2 separate regions of the Homo sapiens genome follow, and region 2 is linked to region 1. Evidence: fine-mapped expression QTL. A gene starts in region 1. The other region holds a variant in brackets. All regions are shown on one strand. Distances are between the middles of the regions.

What was found. PIP is the estimated chance that this variant, and not a neighbour inherited with it, causes the effect.
Region 2: its variant is fine-mapped to the expression of NET1 in whole blood (INTERVAL, PIP 0.91).

The regions. Positions count from the first base shown.
Region 1 is chr10:5,406,361-5,418,449 of GRCh38, reverse strand. NET1 (neuroepithelial cell transforming 1) reads right to left here and starts at 5,893. Exons shown (of 12, transcript NM_001047160.3): 1 at 5,630-5,893. The coding sequence starts at 5,757. RefSeq lists a silencer at 5,552-5,981.
Region 2 is chr10:5,559,608-5,571,696 of GRCh38, reverse strand. It overlaps LOC105376381 (a long non-coding RNA gene), which reads left to right and starts at 4,816. Exons shown (of 2, transcript XR_001747274.2): 1 at 4,816-5,161; 2 at 6,392-8,536. RefSeq lists a silencer at 7,527-7,753 and an enhancer at 10,466-10,967. The variant T/G (reference allele first, on the strand shown) is at 4,919.

The DNA.
Region 1 (12,089 bases):
CTATGAACAAGGAAGGGTACACCAACAAATTAGATAACTTTGATGAAACAAATTCCTAAAGAGATACAACCTACTGAAACTGACTTAATAAGAAACAAACTATCAGAAGACACCTACAACAAGAGATGAGATTGAATTAATAATAATAATAAACTATCCACAGAGAAAAGTCTAGGCCTAGGTGGCTTTACACTGAATTCTACCAAACATTGAAAGAATACCAATTCTTCACAAACTCTTTCAAAAAAAACAAAACAGTAGGGAATACTTCTTAACTGATTTTATGAGGCCAGTATTATCCCAATACCAAAACCAGACAAGCATAGTACAAGATAATAAAACTACAGATCAATATCTTATGAATATATATACAAAAATATTCAACAAAATATTAACAAAATGGATCCAACAATATATTTAAAAAAGCTATACACAATGACCAAGCAGGACTTATACCAGGAAGGCAAAGTTGGTTTAACATCCCAAAAAATCAATTAATGTAACACATCAGTAATAACAACAACCACATGATCATTTCAATAGACAAAAGAAAAAAAACCCTAAAACCTTTCATGATAAAAACCACTCAAAAACTAGTAACAGAATGGAACTTCCTCAACCTGATAAAGGACATCTACAAAGCTTACAACTAACATCATACTTAATGGTGAAAGATTGTATGCTTTCCCCTTAAGATCAGAAACAAGACAAGAATTTCCCGTCTCTCCACTTCTGTTCAGCGTTGTACAGGAGGCCCTACCCAGGGCAATTAGGAAAGAGAAAAAAGTAAAGGGCATCCAGAGATTGGAAAAAGAAGTAAAACTATTTTTATTTGCTGATGACATGACCCTGTACACAGAAAGTCCTAAAGAAACCACTAAAAAACTATTAGAACTAATGAGCTCAGCAAGGTAGCAGGATCCAAGATCGATATACAAAAATCAATTGTATGTATTCCTATACAATTGAAATTATTAAACTGAAAATAAAGTGATACAAAGCGGGGCAGGGAAGTGCTGCGTAGAGGAGAGCGTGGTCCCTTGCTAGGGCTCCATCCCCAGGCCTGGGCCCACGGACCTAAGTGAGGATAGGCATTTCTGTTTTCCTACCCAAATGTTGCATTTCCCAAGACCACCCTGGCTCACCACACCCCCATCCTGTGCCTATAAAAGCACGCCCCCACCTGTGCCTATAAAAACCCCCCGAGACCCTAGCAGGCAGACACACAGGTGGCTGGATGTCAAGAGGAACACATCGACGTGGGAGTACACCAGCACGCTGGCAGGCCAGCTGGCAGGCCATCGATTCGCAGAATGACGCAGAGCTTGGCCAGGGAGGTTGGAGGAGAATCGGGCAACCTGACACCAGGGCAAAACCATTTCCCTTCTGGCTCCCCCATCTGCTGAGAGCTACTTCCACTCTATAAAAGCTTGCAATCATTATCCAAGCCAACGTGTCATCTGATTGTTCCAGTACATCAAGGCAAGAACCCTGGGATACAGAAGGCCCCCTGTCCTTGAAATAAGGCAGGGGTCTAACTGAGCTGATGAATACAAGCCGCCTACGGATGGCTAAACTAAGAGTACCCTGTAACACAAGCCCACTGAGGCTTCAGCTGTAAACATTCACCCATAGACATGGCTATGGGGTTGGAGCCCCACAGCCTGCCTATCTATATGTTCCCCTAGAGGTTTGAACAGCAGGGCACCGAAGAAGCGAGCACACCTCCAGTGCACGCCCTGCGAGGGGGAAAAGGGAACTTTTCCCATTTCAAAAGAAATGAATCCATTTACAACTGCATCAAAAAGAACAAAATACTTAGGAATAAATTTAGCAAAACATGCAGAACTATACTCTGAAAACTACAAAACACTGTTGAAAATAATTAAAGATCTAAATAATTGGAAAAACATCCCTTGTCCATGGATCAGACTACTTAACTCTCTGTAGAGGGCAATACTCCTGAAAATGATCTACAAGATTTAATGCAATCTCTATCAGAATCCCTGTGGACTCCTTTGTAAAAATCGATTAAGCTGATTCTAAAATTCACATAGAATTGCAGGAGACCCAGGATAGCCACAACAATCTTGGGAAAAAAAGAACAAAGTAGGAGGACTCACATATCCCAATTTCAAAACTTACTATACAAAGCAACGGTAATCAAAACACCATGGTAATGGCATAGGGCTATTACATATAGATCAAGAGAATAAAAGTCAAAGTCTAAAAATAAACTCTCATGCTTAAGGTCAACTGATTTTTGACAAGGGTGCTAAGACTACTCAGTGGGAGAAAGAACAGTCTTCAAAAAATGGTGCTGGGGTACCTGGATAGACACATGAAAAAGAATTAAGTTGGACCGTCATCTCACATTATATACAAAAACTAACTCAAAATGGATTAAAGACCCAAATATAAAAGCTAAAATGATAAAATTCTCAGAAGAAAGCACTGGGGAAAGGATTCATAACAATGGATTTAGCAGTGATTTCTTGGATGTGACACCAAAACACAGGCAACAAAAGCAAAAATAGACAAGTAGGACTACAAACTAAAACATTTTTGTGCTTCGAAGCACATCATGAAAGTGAAAAGACAAACCACAGAATAAGAGAAAATATTTGCAAATAATCTATCTGATAAGGGACTTGTATCCAGAATAAAGAACTCTTAACAACTCAATAAAAAAGAAATTTAAAAATGAACAGGGCCAGGTGCGGTGGCTCACGCCTGTAATCCCAGCACTTTGGGAGGCCGAGGCAGGCAAATCACAAGGTCAGGAGTTCAAGACCAGCCTAGCCAACATGGTGAAACCCTGTCTTTACTAAAAATACAAAAAATTAGCCACACGTGGTGACACATGCCTGTAGTTCCAGCTACTTGGTAGGCTGAGGCAGGAGAATCACTTGAACCCGGGAGGCGGAGGTTGCAGTGAGCCGAGATCATGCCACTGTACTCCAGCCCCGGTGACAGACTGAGACTCCGTCTCAAAAGAAAAAAAAAAAAGAGCAAAGGATGGCCCACCAAAAATGGCCACACACATTACATAAATCCATTCATATGCAATGTCCAGAACAGAGAAATTCCTACAGACCGACAGATTAGGTTTTAGGGCAGAAGGGGTAGGAGAGGAACAATAGCTAAAGGGTACAAATGCTCTTTTTGAGGTGATGAAAATGTTCTAAGTAGTACAATTTAAGTGGGTAAATTGTACTGTACGTATTTGTCTTTCAAATTAGTTTATACTGAGTTTTGCCTGCAGAACGTTTTTCAATAGTCACATAATCATACACACAAATCTTTTTCCTTATGATTTCTGAATCTGATACAGTGCTTAGTTGCTTCTTGCCTCACAATTAATACTATCTTGTAATATTTTACGTATTCTTGTAGATGATCTTACATCTTTTCTGGAAAAGGAATATGTTATTTAATTCTCCATTTTCTCTCCATGGTTCTTCTAACTGTGTCTCACTCTCCTCATGCTGCCTGTGTTACTACGCTTTTCTCACAATGTATCATTTCCTACCTCACACAAAAAATAGAGGCCTGGTGGGAAAGTCCTCAAATTCCTGCTCACAACACACCCCATTCTTCAAAACTATATATCATCCATAGCTTCTTGTTAGGCTAAATCCTCTACCTTGAATTTGGATTCTGTCCTTTTCTGCCTTCTTGGATCCTTGTTCAACCATTTTTCTCCTCTACTGTCTGTTCAACCTCTCCCTCTATTTGTTAACTCAGCACAGCACATCAAGGGAATTTATTCTTTCTTAAGAGTCTATCCCACAAAATTGTGTTATTTCTCTCTATTCTTTCTTGTCTTCCTGTTGCAGTGAAACTTCTCTTCACCAATCCCATTGCCAGCTATCAGATTCGAACAATCATTTTTTCATTTAGACTACTGCAGACTGATTTCCTACCAATCCATCAGCTAAACTTGGAAATTTTAATTTGGTATACACAGCTGGGTCCACAAATCTCCTGAAATGTTTATGTATATGTGCACATTTTTGGGGAATAGTTTTCATAAAATATGAAGAGTGAGATGACTCCAAAATGTTGCTTATTTTTCTCATGGAAGGCAAACTGATCTTTTAAAATGCAAATATGTCATGCCATTGGCTCATTTAAAGTCTTTCAGTATTTCCCCATTACCATGAAGATAAAACCCAAACTCTGTCAAGGCATACAAGGTCTCTTCATGATGTGGCGCTTACCTCTTTAGCATCATCTCTCATGACTACCTCCTCCTTCTCCCCATATTGGTTTCCTCTCCTCTATACAAATATCACTGTTAATATAGTAATAAAATAGAATATATACCCAGAACTCATCAGACTCATTTGCTTCAGGGCCTTTCTACATGCTTCTCTGCCTGAAATCATCCATTTACATCTGCTCTCTAAACTGGTCCTTAAAGACTCAGGGATTACAATAGGAAATCATTTCCTATTCTCTCCAGTCAGGATTAAGTGTTCCTTTTAATCTACGGCATTCTGTGTATATCACTATAATAACTTTTATCACATATTATAATAATTATTAACCTACTTATCTTTCTTCCCCACTAGATTATAAATCTTAAATAGTAACAAGAGTATTTTTCCATTTCCATATTCCTAGTGTTGGCACTCACATTATTTTCTGAACAAATCGCACATTCTCTTCTCAACCTGTTGCAAAACACTCTAAGTTCGATATTGTAACCATTCTTGGAAACCATCTAAGATCAATACTCTCTTCTCATTACCAAATTTAATTTTCATTCCTCATCTAGCTTAATCCTCATCTTATTTTACTTAATCCTCATTTTATTTGACCTATCAATAACATCTGACATAGCTCGCCACGTCCTCTTCTTGAAATTCTTTCTTCATTTGGCCTCCTGGATACTGTTCTCACTTGGTTCCCTTCCTCCTAATTCACTAGCTATCCCCTGAGCTTCGCTTTGTGAAATTTCACTGAGCCAAACACGAGTCATACACTCTCATTTCAATGTATACTTCCACAAAAAGTAAAAAGAAAAAACACGAAAATGGTTGTGATGAACTCTCTAATAGGCATCTCATAACATATCCCGAAGTCAACTTATCCCTTAGTCTTTTCTTTCTCAGGACATGGAAGCCCATTCTCGTGGTGCTCACCATGACAGTTTCGGTCTGAGCAAAGGCATTTGGGAACGCCAGCCTACAGCCAGTTGGGTGTGCAGAACAAAACCATTGTGGTTTTTCCTAAGTCTCCCCTGAGAAACAGTCAGGAGGCGAGGAGACTCAATAAACCCGCCCCTTTGCCACAGGCAGGGAAAATCGCAGTTTGGGGTCTCAGGACCGACCTCGGTCCAAGGCCAGGCACACTGTCACTCCAGCCTGTGCCACCCTCACTTCCAGCGGCCCCCGTCCCCCCCCCCAACCCCGCGGTCACCTCCCCCACCCCCCACTCACCTCCCAGCGGCCCTCGCCTCCCCCTGGCCCTCACCAACACCCCCACTCGCCGCCCCCCACATCCAACTCCCGGCCAGCCCTCCCCTCCCCCCGGCCCTTGCCTCTCCAACACTCACCTCCCGTTCGGCCCTCCGCTCCCCTACACTCACCTCCCGTTCGGCCCTCCCCTCCCCCACACTCACCTCCCGTCCAGCTCCGACCCGGAGGTGTCGGCCGAAGGCCCCGTCGCTCCCTCCGTGCTGAGCCCAGAGGCCCGGCGGCTTCGCCTCCGCGGTCGAGGCTGCTTCTGAGCCGCCAGCTCGGGCTCCATGGCACGGAGGAGGGGGTGGGGCGGTGGCCGGGTGCCCGGGAGACCGGCAGGGACGGGCACGATGCCCGCCAGCCTCTGCCAGGCAGAAAGCGCCTGTCAGCGGACTGCAGCCGCCACCGCCGTCATCCGGGGATTTGAAAATGGCGGCTGAGCAGCGATCAGCCAATCAGTGAGCGCGCAGCGGTTCCTAGGAGACGTGGAGTCCCGCCCCTCCACCGCTCCCGGGATCTACTTGCCTAGGAAAGAACCTAGGAAAATTTGCCCTTAACTCCTGAGCGCATCCCTGAGTCCCTAAGGCCCGGTACCTCCTTCATTGTTCATTAGGACTTTCACTACAGGCCAAGGCAAATGGACTGGAAGCATTTTAATTCACCAGATCTTTCTTAGCATTTGAGGAGAAGAGAGGTCCAAACTAATGACCTGTAAACAAGGCATGTTTATTGGCCATATTCACACTGAATTATTGTGCACGTGGCCAATATGAGATATATTTCCAATTACCAAAGGTTATGCAAGTGTGTTCCCGGGACTGTCTCTAGGGAACCAGCAAAATCTAATTATGAGCCCTTATGTCTTCCAATAAGCATGACACAGTCTCTCCCTAGCAAAACAGAATGAAGTGACTTCATCCTTTGCTTGTAAAAGTCAGCAAAAGACATAATATAAAATAAAAGACCGCTTCAAGTAAAAAAAAAATTGTTAAACAAATTACACTTTCTTTGATTTTAAATATTGCTTTATATGTGTCAAAGTCTTTAAAAATAGCTTCTCCTGACCGGGCGCTGTGGCTCACGCCTGTAATCCCAGCACTTTGGGAGGCTGAGGCAGGCGGATCACGAGATCAGGAGATCAAGACCATCCTGGCCAACATGGTGAAACCCTGTCGCTACTAAAATACAAAACTTAGCTGGGCAGAGTGGCGCATGCCTGTAATCCCAGCTACTCAGGAGGCTGAGGCAGGAGAATTAGTTGAACCAGAGAGTCGGAGCTTGAATTGAGCCAAGACCGTGCCACTGCACTCCAGCCCAGTGACAGAGCGAGACTCCGTCTCCAAAAAAAAAAAAACAAAAAAACACTTCTCTTTTGCCAGTATATTTCCACTTATGGAAATTTATCCTAAAAAATAAAATTATATAAACATGAAGCTATTAATGACATTGTTTATAATAGAAACATTTAAAACAACCTAAATAAACAATGATTTATAGCTCATCCACTGAGAAGAATATTTTCAGCCAACAAAAATGAAGTGTGAAGTATGTAATAGTATACTGGTAATTTGAAATAAAAACATGAAGTATAGAGGTATATTCAGTATATTCAAAGTTATGAATTACAAGAGATTATACAAAGAAAAAAGATAATGTATTAAAATGTATTAAATGTATTAAAAAGTCAATGTATTAAAATGTCTCTAGGTAGACTTTAGGTATTCAAAATTTTTATTTTTATTTTTTGCATTTAATTTTTTTAAAAATAAGGACATATTGAATTTGCAGTACCTTTATAACATGAGGGAAAAATGTTTTTGTTTTAAAAAGAGTAAGAAATTAGGGAGTAACATTGAGATGTGAAGCCAGCTAGACTTCCTGGGTAGAGTGGGGACTTGGAGAACTTTTCTGTCTGGCAAGAGGATTGTAAAACACACCAATCAGTGCTCTGTAGCTAGCAAGAGGATTGTAAAATGCACCAATCAGTGCTCTGTAAAAAGCACCAATCAGCAGGACCCTAAAAGTAGCCAATCACAGGGAGGATTGAAAAAAGGGCACTCTGATAGGACAAAAATGGAACATGGGAGGGCACATATAAGGGAATAAAACCTGGCCACCCCAGCCAGCAGGGCAACCCACTGGGGTCCCCTTCCACACTGTGGAAGCTTTAGTTCTTTCACTCTTTACAATAAATCTTGCTGCTGCTCACTCTTTAGGTCTGTGCCACCTTTAAGAGCTGTAACACTCACCATGAAGGTCCATGGCTTCATTCTTGAAGTCAGCGAGACCATGAACCCACCGGAAGGAACCAGCTCTGAACATAAGTTGACCTTGGTCAAGAACCACTTCTGTTCTACCTTCCCCATCCCTCCCCAAAAATTAAAGAAGAAAGTACTGCTTTGTAGCAGTTAGAGTGTAAGAATACAGAAATGTTCTTAATATTTGGGGAGTTGGTCTCCACCAAGACAGAGCTTCAGAGGATGCAGATGTTTAGATTATGAACAAAAATAAACCTGTAAGAGCAATTCTTCAAGTCAGGTCCCAAGTAGGTCACAACTACTCTGTGTCCAGAAAACTCACACCCCTTTGGGATTTTCACAATTTACCCGAATTGACCAATCAGGGCTCACCTGATGTAACCGATCAGAACTCATCTGCTTTATCCAATCAGGGTTCAGCTGTATTACCCAATCTGAACTGAGCAAGTCTGAATCTTTCCTTTGCATAAACACATCTGATTGGAAACCTGGACAAGAACTTTTTCTATAGAAGCCAAACCCTCCCCTTTATTCTCTGGAATCACCTTTCTTTTACTCCGAAGGCTGTGTCTCCCTGGTTTGCAAACTGTTCACTAGAATAAAGTCTCCTTTCTCCAAACTTCCTTTTCAGAGAACTTTTGTTCACAAGATAGGACCATGTGAATCGCTGACGCTTGGTCTTTTTACCCACAGAAACAGCCGTTTCATATTAATAGTTTCAACATACTTCGGTGAGATCCTCAGAATTCAGGGTCTGTCCTCAGCTTTGCAGGTCCTGAAACTGGTTTTGATTGTGTCATCAGAGGTGGTCAGTCCTTTGGTAACTTGTAATAACTACTCACAAAATGATAGATACTGCAGGATGTCAATGTGGGGATTCCAGTGGTGGGGGTGGGCACTTCTTTCCAGTGACCTGAATACTATTGTTTTATGCAGAGCAACTGTTTCCAATTTTCATTCACTTGAGAACTTATGATTTTGTTCAATTATTCACAAGAATTTATTAAATTCCTGCTATAATATGCCAGGATCTGTGCTAGACATTAGGGAAATAAGGAATAGAAGACAAATTTTCATCAGAAAATGGCTGGGTACCATAGAAGAAGAGCAAAGAAAAGTGACCGCTCTGAGGGTTGGTCATTGAAGACCTGGGAAAGGCTGGTGACATCTCTTGATCTTACAAGAGATCAACTTTCTGGTGTCTGAATGCCATTGTCCCCATGTTCTATGTCTTACACTGTATAGAACAGTCCCAAAACCATGACAAATGTTCTCTGAATCCTCTCTCTTTCAGTTCCCCACAAATCATCCTTCTCCCTTAAAATATTCACCGGGATAGGGTTTGAGGAAATTGTTTTGATTTCAGCTTTCATATATATAAAATCAGACTCTAGAACTCCCTCTCTGAGAAGATATTCCTACTAACTTGACTAGAGCAAAGTGTAACCCAAACTTTTTCAACCATGGATTTGCAAAACAAATATTCTTTTGGGGAACTTCCTCAAAGATTATTTCCAAAACCTTCAGCCCTATGTGATGACACCAATCATTTTGCAAGTTGATATTAAATAAATTCAACAATCAATAAATGAATGTAAATTATTATGTAAATCAATAATTTAAAAACCTATTTTCTTTCATTATCTAAGTAAATCAAACTATTTTTGCAAAACTGCTTACCAAGTTTTATATATATATATATATATATATGTATATATTAGAGTACAAAGTGTTCATCAAAACACTTTATTAATTTCCAAATTATTTGATGATTTTGATGTGATATTTTGTTTGCCATTGCTATCACTAGCTAAATGATTCCCCTTTGGTCTGTAGGCTCCCATAGAAAAATGTAGCAAATTTGCAAACAATGACCTACCATTAGAAAACTAGTAGTCTTAATAACTAGAGAATTGCCCTTTGCATCAACGTTTTTCTTTTTTGTCTGAATCTTCTCATAGCTTCTCATGAACTAACAGCAATTACATTCAGGAGAATGAATGTCTGTATGTGTGCATATACATATAATTTATATATAGAATGTTATAATAAAGTCTGAAATTTTTAAAAATATATTTACTATATCTACTATTGATTAATTTACAAAACTGTTTATTAGACTGTAATTTTTAATTGGGTCAAACTTAATTGTTCCTGCCAAATGAAAGGGAGTGTAGTCCAACAGCTAAGTATGTGGACTGCATTGATTGTCATTCTGACAAGCAGAAGTGTACTTATAGGCACAATAGGGCAGAATATTTGAAATCAGGTTTGTCATCCCTTAAAATCTATCACTGTGTGTGTATGTGTGATGTGGGGGGAGGTTGTTTCATTTTTTGCCTCAATCAGTCAATCAATCAATCAATCATCTATGAATCATTTGTTTACCATATTGGTTTACTCTTAGGTATTCCAATGAGGAAAATGGAAAACTCCAAAATCTAGCTGTTGAGCTTAGAGAACAATAAAATTTGAGATGAAATATGTGTGGCCAGAGAAGGTGCTATTAATCCAAAGTAGACTGTAATTCATTTTTCTTAACGCTTAGACTATCTTCCTAAAGACATTGCAGGTCTAAAAGACTGATTTATATTAGTAGTAGGAGAGGAGAACAGAGGAGGAAGGAGAAAGGGGTTTCAGTGCAATGGTAGGGGCCAGAGAGAATGGCAAAGGACAGTGATCTGGCTGTGGTTGTGAGGCTGCCAACAGAGAATTACCAAAGAGAACTTCAGAAATGTCAGAATGTCAATCAGAATTATTGCTCAGAGTTGAATAATTTTTTTTTTTTGTAACAAATTTTCATGCTTAGAAGGTTTTGTTTGTCTCATTACTTGGCCAGTGAATTGACTGGCTCACAATGAAAAATACTTAAGAAAGGAACTTTTTTTTTTTTTTGAGATGGAGTTTTGCTCTTGTTGCCCAGGCTGGAGTGCAATGGCGTGACCTTGGTTCACTGTAACCTCCGCCTCCAGGGTTCAAGTGATTCTCCTGCTTCAGCCTCCAGAGTAGCTGGTATTACAGGTGCCTGCCACCACACCCGGCTAATTTTTTGTATTTTTAGTAGAGATGGGGTTTCACCACATTGGCCAGGCTGGTCTTGAACTCCTGACCTCAGGTGATCTGCCCACCTTGGCCTCCCAAAGTGCTGCGATTACAGGCATGAGCCACTGTGCCTGGCCAAGAAAGGAACTTTGAACAAGGACATCGTAACTATAAATACCACACTTTTATCACTCTGCCATTTTTTCACCCTCAGAACCTAAGGGTGGCCACCAAGTATGTCAGAGTCAGTATTGTGTGTGTGATTTATTTTAAGGAATAAGTTAGTGTGATTGTGGGGCTGTAAAGTCTGGAATCAGTAGGGCAGGCTGGCAGACTGGCAGGCTGGAAACTCCTGAGTAACAGCTAAAGCTGAAACTAAAGGTGCCATCCTTAGGAGAAATTTCTTCCTCAGAGAAATCTCCATTTTACTCTTATGGTCTTTCAACTGATTGGATGAGGCCCACTCACATTATTGAGGATGATGTCCTTTACTTAAAGTCAAAGTTTACTGGAGATGTTCACCACACCTCCACAATGCCTGCACAGCAATACCCAGACTAGTGTTAGATTGGATAACTGGGTGCCACAGCCTAGCCAAGTTGACACAAAAACTATCACCCCAGAAGGCCTCTTCAGACGTGAAATTCCAATTATTATCACTTGAGGAAACTTTTTTCTTTAAGACTTAGTCTTTCAAAGAAATAAGGAATTACTAAAAGATAAGATGCATTTCTTAAATTATACTACAAAAGAGATTTTTCTAGTTTCTTTCTAATTCCTACGTAAATCTAAGTTAATCATAGCTCCATGTCAGACTGACAATTTTTAAAAGTTAATGAAAGATACTGAGTACATCAGTGGACTAGAAATGAGATACTCACATTATCTGATTTTTCCCTCATCTTGTTTCAAACTGAAAATATCTGGGACCAGTGGGAGAAAATTTGATACAGCAACAAAATAAATATCATTCTGATTTTATAAAATGGAACTGGCTTAATTTTTCTTTTCATTATATGGAACTACCAGGATGCTAAACATTTGGGGAGTTATTGACAGAGACAGATAGGATTGACTTTATGAAGATCAAAATGAGAGAAAGTATAATTTATAATAAGTTCAGGAGAAAATTGCTGAAGAACACTATGGTTTCTTCATTTTCTCAAAGTTGTAAGGAAGAATTGGTAGAAACCAAGATTCTTGAGTAACAGAAATTTTGTTTTGATTACTGAATAATAAAATTGTTACTATGCTAACAAAACATGTCATTAATTCAAAAGAAGATCAGGAAGAAAAGAGAACTTAGAAAATGGAGACAAAC
Region 2 (12,089 bases), 150 kb before region 1:
TCAGGAACGCAGGGTCCCCGAGGATAAGGACCTGGGCTCCTGTAGGGGCCTGGCGCTGGGCCTGGGAAGCTCTTTGTTTGAGTGTCCAAGCCTGGAGTGTGCGGGTCCCCACCCAGTAAGCACACCACTCACACTTGTAAACAAGGCATAAAACACACATTTGTGTAAATGCATGAACAAAAATGCAAGGAGGTTCAAACTCTGTCGCTATGAATAGATAGGACTTTGTTTACAAAGCAATGGGTTCTATGAACAGAAGGGACCTGCTGAACCTCTGAGCCCTGTCCCTCCATCTGTTTGCAGCTGTGAAGGTCAAAGTTCTCTGGGACACCATGATCTTGGGATCCAGTCCCTAGGGCTAGACTGTCCCAGGATGGAGAATATTATAATACTAGTTTCTAGATATCAACCACCGCCTCTGTTCCAGTGCATTAGGTACACGAATCCTTCTAATTACTCTGCGAGGTGGGTTTTGTAAATCCATTTAGCAGTTGAGAAAACTGGCACTCAGAGAGGTTGAGCAATTTTTCTGTGATCACACAGCTGGTAGAACCGAGATGCTTCATCACCTCTTTTTGAATCAGATGAGGGCAAAACAACCCCAAATCATTTAACTTGTTTACACTTAGAGTAGAAGTTGAAAAAAGGGGAAAAGAAGGGGTCATGGTTGGGTATCTGGTATCGATGATGGCAATTACGTTCATCTGGATACACAGGAACCAAACCCACACCCGGATAAAGGGAAGAGAGTTTTGCAGATGGTCATTGCAAATCAACAAAGCCAGCATCACTGAATGCTTCCTGTGTGCAGGTGCTGGCTGGGCCAGGGTCCCTCTTTTTGTTAACAACCAGTTGATGTGAACCCCTTGATGGGGACCTCTGTCTAATGAGAGAGATGGAAGAGCTCATCTTCTCACTGAAAGGAGCATTCAGTTCAACTTAATGAATGTTTACCACATACTTATTGTAGGCCAGGCTTGACGACAGGCACTGGGTGCCTGCAAAAGCAAGGCAGGGACCCTGCCTCCAGCTAGTGAGGAGGGGGACCGATGTCCAGGAAGAAGAATTAGCACTCAAAGCCCTGGACACTGGGCTTCCCTGACACCGCCCCACCGGCCTCCTTGGGCCAGATGAGACCTGTGATGCAGCTGGACGCAGTCCCCGAAGGCTTCACAGTCTGGTCCCCATCCAGCCCTGCGCCCTCCGCCCTCTGCCCCATCTGCATGTAACGGAAACAGATGGGCGAGCTGGCTTCTGAGTCTCGTGCCCCTGCATGCAGACCCGGGCCCTGGAGGAAGTGTGCCTGCCTGGCTTCAAAGCCATGGCCCACCCTTTCCTCCAGAGCCAGCCTGGCTGTGGCGCTGCCTGGGCTGGTGGATGCCAAGTCTGTGCCTGGACATCAAAACAATGCAGCCTCCCTCTTACCTCATCTCTCCGCCTTTGTGGCGGACAGCTCACGGCCCACTCTGTGCTGGAGAGGGCAAAGCTTCACCTCTGGCGCATGTGCCCCTCCTTCAAGTGTCTCCCCGTCGTGCCGGGTTCCCAGGCAGCTCTCCTCGCAGACCACGGATTTTCCACCAGGCCTTGCCTGAGATTCCACACCTGGGCTCATCGTCAGATTCACCTGGTGGGCTTCTCGGAAGTATCTGCTTCTTGTTTGGTCCCTCAAGAATATTTCCAAAGGTTTCGGGGGAGCCTAGAGATCTGTTTTTTTGAGAGTGTCCTGGGGGATCCTGGCAGCAAACCAGGCTGTAAGATGCATGTCCCAAGCCAGGCTCCCCAAATGCACATTTTGCTGGGCTGCCGTTCTCTTGTGAAATGTTTCCCAGAAACTTTGCCTGCAAAATCTTCCTTTCCTGGAGATTTGTGATCACAGTGACACACTGAGGGACTGATGAGCCTTTACAACAGATAGCTGTTGTCTAAAGGTAAACACACTCTTTTGAGAGAAGATAATTTTTTTTCCTGGCATCACAATGGTTTTTTCTAGGACTAGAGAGGAAAGTCTTACTCCAGATGTTTTCTTACTTCTTCCCTCTTTTCCATAGACACATACCTACCTTGTGCCCATTCTTTCCACGGGTGTCATGGAATCATAAGGGAAAAATGACTGGAGAAATGAATCCTGTGCCATTCATTAACTCATTAGTGAGTTCTCACCTCCCAGGAAAGATAGTTCTGTGATCCAGTTTAAATATTTACATTTCCATGATGCTTTTTAATCGAGGATCTTAACTTTAGAAATATCAGACTTTATGACAGATGGAGAAGGGATTTGGGGGGGACTATGAGCTTTTGAGAGCAAAATTTATTAATTCATTCAACCAGCCAACAACCAATCAACGAACCAACCACACACCAACCACACACTCATTCACTCACCCACCCACCAGCCAACCAACAAATCACCAACTGCCTATAAACCACTAACCATCCAAGCAATCAACCACCAACCAGCCAACCAAGCACTCACCTACCTACCAACAAACCAACCAACCACTCACCCACCTACCAACCAACCAACCAACCACTCACCCACCTACCAACCAACCAACTAATCAACCACCAACCAACCAATTAGCCAATCACCAACCAACCAGTCAAGCACCAACCAACCACCAACTAACCAACCAACCAAAAACCACTTACCCACCAACCAGTCAGCCAACAAACCACCCGCTAACCAACCAACTACTTACCCACCAATGAATCAACACTTTATATTAAATAAGGTGCCTTTAAACAGAAACATACATAAAACAAAGTTATATATGGATTGGTTGACAAAAATGCTATGGTCAGGGCTGGTAGGAACATACCCCATATTTCTCCTGGGAACAATGGTTCAGCATAATTGTCTCTTGGTATCCTTGGGGGATTTGTTCCAGGACCATCTGCGGATACGAGAATCCAAAGATATGCAAGGCCCTGATATAAAATGGCATAGTGTTTGCATATAATCTATGCACACCCTCCTGTATACTTTAAATCATTTCTAGATTACTTATAACACCTAATACAATGTAAATACCATGTAAATAGTTGTTATACTATATTGTTTAGGGAATAATGGCAAGAAGTAAAATAGACATGTTTAGTACAGATGTAACCATCATAGGCCTAATTACATTATCAATCCAGGGTTGGTTGAATCTGAGGTTTTGGAATCCATGGATTCGGAGAGCTGACTGTATTTGCTAATTCACTGTTCTTGGTGACTTTAGAGAACAGAAGTACTGAGAATGACAAGCATTGACTGTACTTTGTCTAATACTGAGAATGAAGGAGAATAAATGAGAATTCAGGAAGCATAAAACAAATTAGTTTACAAAGTCTGAGATAAGCTGGCATTTACTGATGATTTGCTTAGATACAGATCTCCCGGCCCTTAAACGTTAACTACAGTTCACAACCGTGTTGCCTGAGCCCCTAGTTGTTCTCCCTTCTAGCTTCTCTCCATAATTTGGGAGGAATTTGACACTTTTGTGGTCAAAAGCAAGAGAAACTGAGACCCTCTCTGAGGTTCACTGATAATTTTATTCTGTTTTTAAAAATAAGGCCAAGATATAATAAAGTGCACAAATCTATACAGTTTGATGGACTTTTGTGTATGTATACAAGCATGAAATCATCCCTTGAACCAAGGTTTAGGGCATTCCTCCTTAGATTGTTGTAGGTCTGAGAGACACACCTCCTTATACCTGGTGTATTCATCAGAAATGATCCCATGTGACCTTCGGAGAGATATCGCCTCCTATAGCCACAGCAAGGATGTGGTTTTTGTCTTCAGGCTCATTAAGAAGTCCATATATTGATAAAATATATAACATTCACATCATAAAACAAAACAAACCATGCAGATGGATAGGAAAAGAAGGGGTATTGCCTTAAACTATGGTGGAAGACAACATTGTTATTTATTAGTTAATGAGCTGATTCTTTGAAAATGATTAACTTCTAGAATATAGATGTTGAACAAGGTAGCATTCCTCCTTATCACTGAGCAAATATTTGTGGATGGCTATTTGGATGCTAATAAAATGTATTGAGATCAATACCTTCTTCATAATTTTTGGCTCGTAAACATTTTGTTCATATCCTGGAGACTCATGTGTGCAGCACGTGTTTTTCACTGGATGTAGCAAAGCTTGTGGGGTGGCTTTCCTTCATAATTGTCTTCTGTGGATTTATGGTCAGCTTTTGTTTCAACAAAATCAACTACCAAAGAAGCTTGTGACCATGAGTTTGTGAGAAATCTTCAAATTCATTTTTGTTATAGGTGGTATTTAGTAGGTTTTTGTTCGTTTGTTTGTTTGTTTGTTTGAGACGGGTCTGGCTGTGTCACCCAGGCTGGAGTAGAGTGGCGCATTCTAGGCCCACTGCAACCTCCGTCTCCCTGGTTCAAACAATTCTGCTTCAGCCTCCTGAGTAGCTGGGATTACAGGCACATGCCATCATACCCAGCTAATTTTTGCATTTTTAGTGGAGACAGGGTTTCACCACGTTGGCCAGGCTGGTCTCGAACTCCTGACCTCAGGTGATCCACCCATCTCGGCCTCCCAAAGTGCTGGGATTATGGTGTGAGCCACAGCACCCAGCCTTTTTCTGAGAAAAAAAGATAGATATGTAATAATCTTGCATGATAGGTTTTTTGTTCTGTAGGGTTCTCTGGCAGCCCCTGTTTTATCCATTGGACCAACTGTCTGTAAAGGCAGGTAACTTACTTACTTCTTTCTCCTGGAGAAGGACTTTTTGCCCTAACCGAAGCACACTAGTCACAGAGTTGTCCTAGTGACAAAGACACAAATTGAAGCTGCACTCAGTACTCATGGCTGATCAAGGGAAGTGAGCTCATCTCACCTTGACTCACAGCGATGACAGGTTCAAGCCCCTGCATGTGGGCCCGTTCCTCAGAGGA[T/G]GTTTGCAATGGGGGTGGGGGTTGCCATGGTGATGCCCAGTCAACAGAATGGAGAAAAGAGAAATTTGGTTTGAAATGAAATTTGAGTCTTGAGAGAGGGCTGATATGAAGGAGAATCAAACAAGCCACATGGGAGCATCTGAAGGCCTGGAGATAAGGGCCTGTTGCATGGCTGTGAAAATTTGGCCTTTAAAATAACTAGGCATGGGCCAGAAATCACAGCCGGCGGCTGCGACCACCCAAGTGAGTCAAAGGGAGCTGGATGAGAAGGTGGGGGGCACGCCTGGGTTAGGGTCCTTGACAGTTTTGTCCAGATTGGGTTTGAGTGTGGGGTGTCCTCATGGGACTCTGGTGAGTTGGGGGTGGGAAAGGCGGTTGACTCCTTGGGGGCTGGTCACCACTCAACAGCTGTTCTCCAGTGGCACTTTATGAAGCAATGTTAGCAATGGGAGCTCCCCTGCCAAGATGTGGGTGGTCGGTACCCAGTGGCTTTCAAAGCCAGCAACCCAGGGATCTCACAGAAGTCCATCAGCCTGAAGGCAGGCACGTGGGAGATGACTAAAACCAGGTGATGTAGGCAAGAGGTACCCTCAGAACGCCCTCGAGTTGCCCCATTGTTCTTTTCTGTGCTGCCTGTGTGTGCAGCCGCTGAGCTCCTTGTGTTTTCGGGAGGTGGAGTATGCACCCCTGTGGGCTCATCCATCCTCGCCCTCATCATCCTCCCTGGCACCGTGCAGACTCTGAGCTTCTGCCCGCCCCACCCAGGTGTCTCATCCCACCTGCCTCGGGGAGCCTGGCTGAACAGCAGGCACCACCCTGAGCCACCCCTTCCCAGCCAGAGCAGCTCCGGTCGGAGGCTTCCTCCCAACAGGCGGGCTTCTTAAGCCTCCTTAATCTGCACGGAGGAAATTCAGAAATCCAGTCATCCTGAAACCATCTTCCTTCGGGGCAGGACAGAACCCGTGTGTGTGGGTAGATGAGTGTGGATGGTGGGGGTGGGAGGCACATTTGTCATCGTGCTCAGCCCAGAACTTCCCAGATGTTCAGGCCAATCAGGGTGAACCCTTGAACTTCCCTGGGCCTCTGATGCCCGGCTAGTGCCTCAAAAAGCCTCATCCGCGGGTGCTTAAAAAAAAAGACTTGAGGCTTCTTTACAGACACAGCTCATTCTAGAAATCTTCCAGCCCCAACATCACCAAAGGCGAAGAGAAGAAGGAAACTCACTATTCTAGCAGTCCCTGGGCCAAGAGCCTGTTAAGCCATTTTACGAGCCGTCCCCTAAAACATGACAATTCTGCCAGGCAGGTGTGGCAGAAGCGGGGCTATGTCTTTCCCAGAACACTGCAGCTTCAGCATGTCCTGCTTGCAGCCGGGGCCCCTGGGAGTGATGCTGGAGGACACCACCTCCAGGCTGCCCCAGAAACCTCCTGCCCAATACTCACACCGTCTCTCTTCATCTGTTGACCACTTTAGGGCAGGAGATCCAGCGGGGGACTATGGAGCTCAGTGGAGCTGCGGCCTGGGAGAAGCCCACCCAAGAGAACCATGTAACTAGAAACCATCACATTCGGCTTCGTGTGAGGGAGAAGCAGGTGTTTCATTGCACGCAGTTACTGAGATCTGGGGTTGTTTGTTATTGCAGCAAGGACCCACCCTAACACACGAGGTGTTATATGCATTTTACAGATTGCCAAGATGGTACAGACAGCAGAAGTGGCAAAACAACACTTAAACTCAAACCTGCCCAACTTCAAAGTCCACGCCCTTCCCTGGGCTTCAGACTGCCGTCTTTGATGCTATCTTTCATTGAGATGTTGTTTGCATTAAATGGGGGATCTTGCGGCACACGGTGGACCTTGCCCAGCACCCACTCTTCCTAGGGCCAGCCTTACTCTGTGGGGTCAGCCTTTGACCGTCTGGGCCATGAAGGTGGCTGATGAGGCCCCTTCGACAGCCAAGTTGGGGCACAATCTCCTCCGGATGTTGTTATTCCTTCACAGTCTCATCGCAGGCGGGGAGGAAGTCAGAGGGCTGATTTAGAGGACAGAGATACAAACAGAGTGAGCAGAGGATGTTTGGCTGCAGTTGCTCCAGAGTTTCAAGGGAGAAAACACAAGCATTGCTGAGCGGCCATTAGGGGCTTGCACGCTCAGCTGGGCACATGTCCACACCGAGGCATCACGTGCGGTCTGAGCTGAGCTCTCATCTCTGGGTTTCAGGACTTTCAGCACAGTCCTGGCCCTTCACGTTTAGTCTGGGTGATCAGGGATGTAAACCAGCAATTGCAAGGTGGTGAAGCACCACCGTGGAAGGGCACCAGCCGGGCCCTGGGGTCACAGAAGTGCCCCAGGAAGTGTGGCCGTTAAGCCTGGTGAGAGGAGAGCGAGCCGGGAGGACGGTGAGAGACAGGCATGACGGGGCGGTGAGTGTGACTGCTGCTGAGCATGTCTGAGACGGCAGGCAGTCACCAAAGGCTTGTAAGCAGAGGCAACACCCTGACTTGTGGTTTGGAGAGATCATGGTGACTGCCGTGCAGGGACGGAATGGAGGCTGCTCCAGTGACTCTGGCCGTGGGCAGTGGTGGGCGGGTGAGGGGACAGAGGAAAGTGGATGGAGTTGCTGCCCCCACAACCCTGCTGAGAAAGTGCCCACGGGACCTGGCGGGGTGTGAGTCACACTTGGGCTGCTCTGCCTGGCTCTGCACCTATTTCGTGAGCTGGAAGGGACAGCCTGAGCCCCGTCCCTTGGATGGACATCAATGCAGGAGTAAGGGTCTGTCTCTGAAGCTCTCTGAGCAACGGAAGGGAAGGTGCCCACTGGGCTCAATGCAGAGATATTGGGGCTGATGTGGCAGGAGGGGTGGGTGTGCAGGCCCGGCGGGGAAGGAGACTTCCAAACAGACGGGCTGCCCCACGGGGAATCTGGCTGGGGCCAGTCATTCTCAGAGTCAAACCATCTTCATTCAACTCCGAGGCTGCCCCAGGCCAGTAGCGTCCTTCCTGAGAGCGCTTCCTGCGAGATTTATGAGGCAGGGGCCAGGCCTGGATCGTAGAAAGCTAGAGAATGCCTTGGCTGCCCAGGGAAGTCTGGAATTTCTTCCAAACCAAGCTTCCAGACGTCCCTCTGGACTCCTCTGTCTGAGAATGGGCACTTTAAAGGCCCAGGAGAGAACTCCCATGACACCGTTTTCCAACCTCCCATCTCCCCTCCCCGGCAGCTCCCCATTTCCGGCATCTCGGCTTGGCAGGACCCCTCCAGGACCTCACTCCTCTGAGACGCACTGCAGACCTCACAGGTGACAGCAGCGTTTTGCTGACTCAGAGGCAACTACCACGATGACCCTCCAGCCCGTGTCCAGACCTGGGGCAGCGACTTGGACAGGGGGCTGCAGAAGTGGGTCTGTGAGGGGGACCTGACGGGGGGCTGCAGAAGTGGGTCTGTGAGGCGGACCTGGGGGGGCAGCCCTGGGGTGGGCTCACTGGGGTTCACTCCACCTCGAAGACTTCAATTCCAGCTCTGGCTGGTTTTGTTGGATTAGGAACACACAGCCAGCCAAATCTTGGTTACTAGGGTGCCAGAGATCACGTGGAGAAATGAAATAAAGAGAGAACCCCCAAACGGTGGTGCTGCCATGCATTGGAGCCTCTCGCCCCAACAGCATTCTTACTTTATTTATTTATTTCTCATCCACATTTTGCTGGAAGATTTTGCGCATTCATAATGGCAAACAGAATATGGCGATAAGCTTCTGTGTACACTATCATCAACAGCTTTCAATTCCTAATTAACCTTATTTTATCAATATTCCCCATAATCCCCCATGCTGTTTCTTGGCAAATCTAGATGACCCACCATTCCAGCCTTAAAAATTTCAGTGTATAACTGACCAAAGCTTTTTATTAGAATTGCTAGGTAGGGAGGAAATTTAAGTTTCTATGACTATGCCTAGTAAAGTTTGAAAAGAAGACAACGGGGGAAATAGACATTGACAATTCATATTGAATAATTGCACAGAGACAGTTCCTTTGTTTGAGGCTAAACCGAGACAGAGCCTCAGATACCCTCACTCACTCCTCTCTGGCTGAGAGGGGAGGAATTTTCGTCTGGGTCAGGGAGCAATGAGGTGGGAGTTTTGTGCTTCGGTTCTGGGGTGGAGATGGAAGGTCATAGGTAGCAGTCCAGTAACTGGCCCCATAAATGGTTCTGTGAGGCAGAAGCAGCTGCTTTGTGGAGGACTTGTGAGACTCTGAGGGAGGAGGAGGGAGGGCTCACGCACACCAAGGCGGCCCCCATTGTTTGGGTTTTGGGAACCCTGGGAGACAGTGGCCGTGGTCTCTGGTTCCCCTCACTGGGGCTCCAGGAGCAGTGGCCATGTTCAGACCAGAACAAAGGGGTCAGGACCAAGAGGATAAAGAGATACAGGCATGGCTGCTGGTGGGACCTGGTGGTCTGACAACAGAACACCACAAGACATCCCTCAGGGACCGTGTGTCCTTTAGAGACACTTCCCTCCACAGGGATGTGGCCATCAGATGTCTGTCCAACCCGAGAGCTAGCTGTGCAATGGGCCCAGTGTGGAGGTATAGCCAGTGGGAGGGCTGGAGCCATGGTCGGGAGTGGAGGGGTTGCCTGCAGTGCCTGTGGACGGGAGGGGCACCAGGAGAGGAGGGTCTGGAGGGGGACACCAGGAGAGGGGGATCTGGGGGGAGATACCAGGAGAGGGGGATCTGGGGGTATACCAGGAGAGGAGGATGGCGGGGGACACCAGGAGAGGGGGACCTGGGTTTTACCAGGAGAGGGGTACCTGGGAGGATACCAGGAGAGTGCACCTGAGTGGGACACCAGGAGGTGGAGACCTGTAGGGGGAATGCCAGGCGAAGGGGACCTGGAGGGTAACACCAGGAGAGGAGGACGGGGGTGGGGGGACGCAAGGAGAGGGGCAGGGCTTGGAGTCACTCTGCCATCTTGGGCTCCTCAACTTTGGGATGCCAGCTCAGCCTTTCTGAGACTGGGTTTCCTCATCTGTAAAATAGAGGGATCTCCCCACAGAGCGTTTGTGAGGATTAAAGGATCAATTCCAGAAAAAGGCTCAAAGCAACGCCTGTCCCGCGCCCGGCCCACAGTGAAGCTGGGCGTCGTTACTCCTGCTGTGGTCACTGGTGGTGTGAGGACCGCAGCACAGGGCAGGAGGGACACGGCCCACAGGGCGTCCGGCCTCCTTGGCACCTGCTCCAGGGCCCTTCCCGTCACCTCCTGGCTCCTCCGTGCACGTCTTGCTCCAGCGCTGCGTGGCCGCCTGTCCCCATTGCTCCGGAGCCCTTTACATTCATTTCTCCTCACCTGGGACCCTCTTCCTCCCCTCTCTGCAGTGGAGGCTCCCAGCCTTGTCCAAGGGCTTCCTGGGAAGTCACTTTCCCTCCGAAGCATCTCATGCACCCTCCGGGCACCCTCACCCCTCCAGAGGTCCTGTGGCTCCCCAACTAGTGGGTGACACTGTCCTATTGCTGGACGCCATGGCTTCGAGGGCCTGTGTTACCCTTGGGCAGGGCCTTTAGTCCTGCAGGCTTGGACTCTGTCTTATTCATCCAGCCCCTGCATGCCTGGCATGGGCCAGGGCCTGGGCTGGGGGCTCAGGAGATGTAGTTGGATCTGAATGCTGGGTTGGAGAATTCTGTAAACACATAGGATGCAGGGTGAGTGGCCGTATGGGACATGAGCAAAGTCCTCTGGGAACCTGAGGCGCAAACTCTGAGTTCATTTTCACACCCTCCATGGTGCACACTGCCATATACCAGCAGGTGCCCCCAAACGCACAGCTGAATGACAGAGAGAAGTCAACCCGTGCAGGCTTCATCTGACTGTCTCCAGACGACTGGGTCCCTGGCCCTGGGCGAGCCCCTCCCGGAGGGTCTCCCTGCATTCTCTGCCAGGTCTGGGCCCAGGACCATCCTCTGGGGGATGGGTGTGTTGACTGCTGGCTGTAGAGTGTGGCCTGTATCTGCCCCTCTCTGGGTCCCACCCTTCTGGGACTGTCTCAGATTTGAGGAAAGGAAGATGGATGTTGTCTGGTCCGGTCCGTGCCTCACCGTAAGGTGTCGTGTTGTGCTTTTGGCCACTGAAGATTTTCCCTGGTCTCTGGAGCTCCAGCCAAGCTCTCTGAGCGCCAATATCATGTTTCCGTTTTCCCGCTGTTCTCAACAAGCAGCTATGGATTGACTGGTTGATCGCAAGGCTGTTTTAAACAAAATAGAATATATTTCTTTCAAGAAGTCCAAAGCTCTCAGAAGAGCATTTCCAACTTATTTCCAATAATCTCTAATCTCTGAACAATGTCAACCCATCACTCCTAGATCTTTCAGGCACTCCCCATCCCCCCACGCTGACCCTTTCCTGTCTCACACACACTGTCTGGAGATAAAACTGTGGGGGGCGGAGGTCTGGGAAAGAGAGAGAGACACATACACACAGAGAGTCAGAAAGAGAGATCAGAGAGACAGAGAGACAGAGACAGAGACAGAAAGAGTTAGTGAGATCAGAGACAGAGATTCAGAGAGATCAGAGAGAGAGTCAGAGAGACAGAGACAAGAGAGAGGGACTCAAATATGTTTCAGACAAGAACCTGAAGCAATTGAGTCAAAGTTCTGCAAAAAAAAAAACCCACGAAATTTAATTTTAGATGGAAAAAAAATGACGAACCCCTTTGAGGCCTGCCTGTTAGTTTTGGTTGTGTGTCATTGTTTAAATATTCTTTGCATTTCCCCTCGCCAAAGACTCTAGTTAAATTAGAGCCAGCTTAAAGCACGCTTTATTTATGGCCGTGCCTACCCCCAAGCCTCGGGGTTGTTTTGAGCCAGCAGGGAAGGTGTACTTAATATAGAGCAGGAGGGTATGTGTGCAATGTTCTTTGAATGATGATTGCAAGGTGCACAGAGAAGATTTGACTTTATTTAGACATTCGGTTTCTTCACAGTCTCCTCTCTGGAAGGGCTCTTGGCTTCCTCTCCAGACAGCATGTGTGTGGTAAGGAAAAAGCCTGCATGTGGAGGTCTGTGGGAGGAGGTGTGACTGCAGGATCGGGGTAAAAGATTTTCATTATGAGGGAGGGTGCGTCACCCACACTAGGAATTCCCAGGAGGTGCAGTTTGATTAAATATTTGTATGGTCCAGGTTA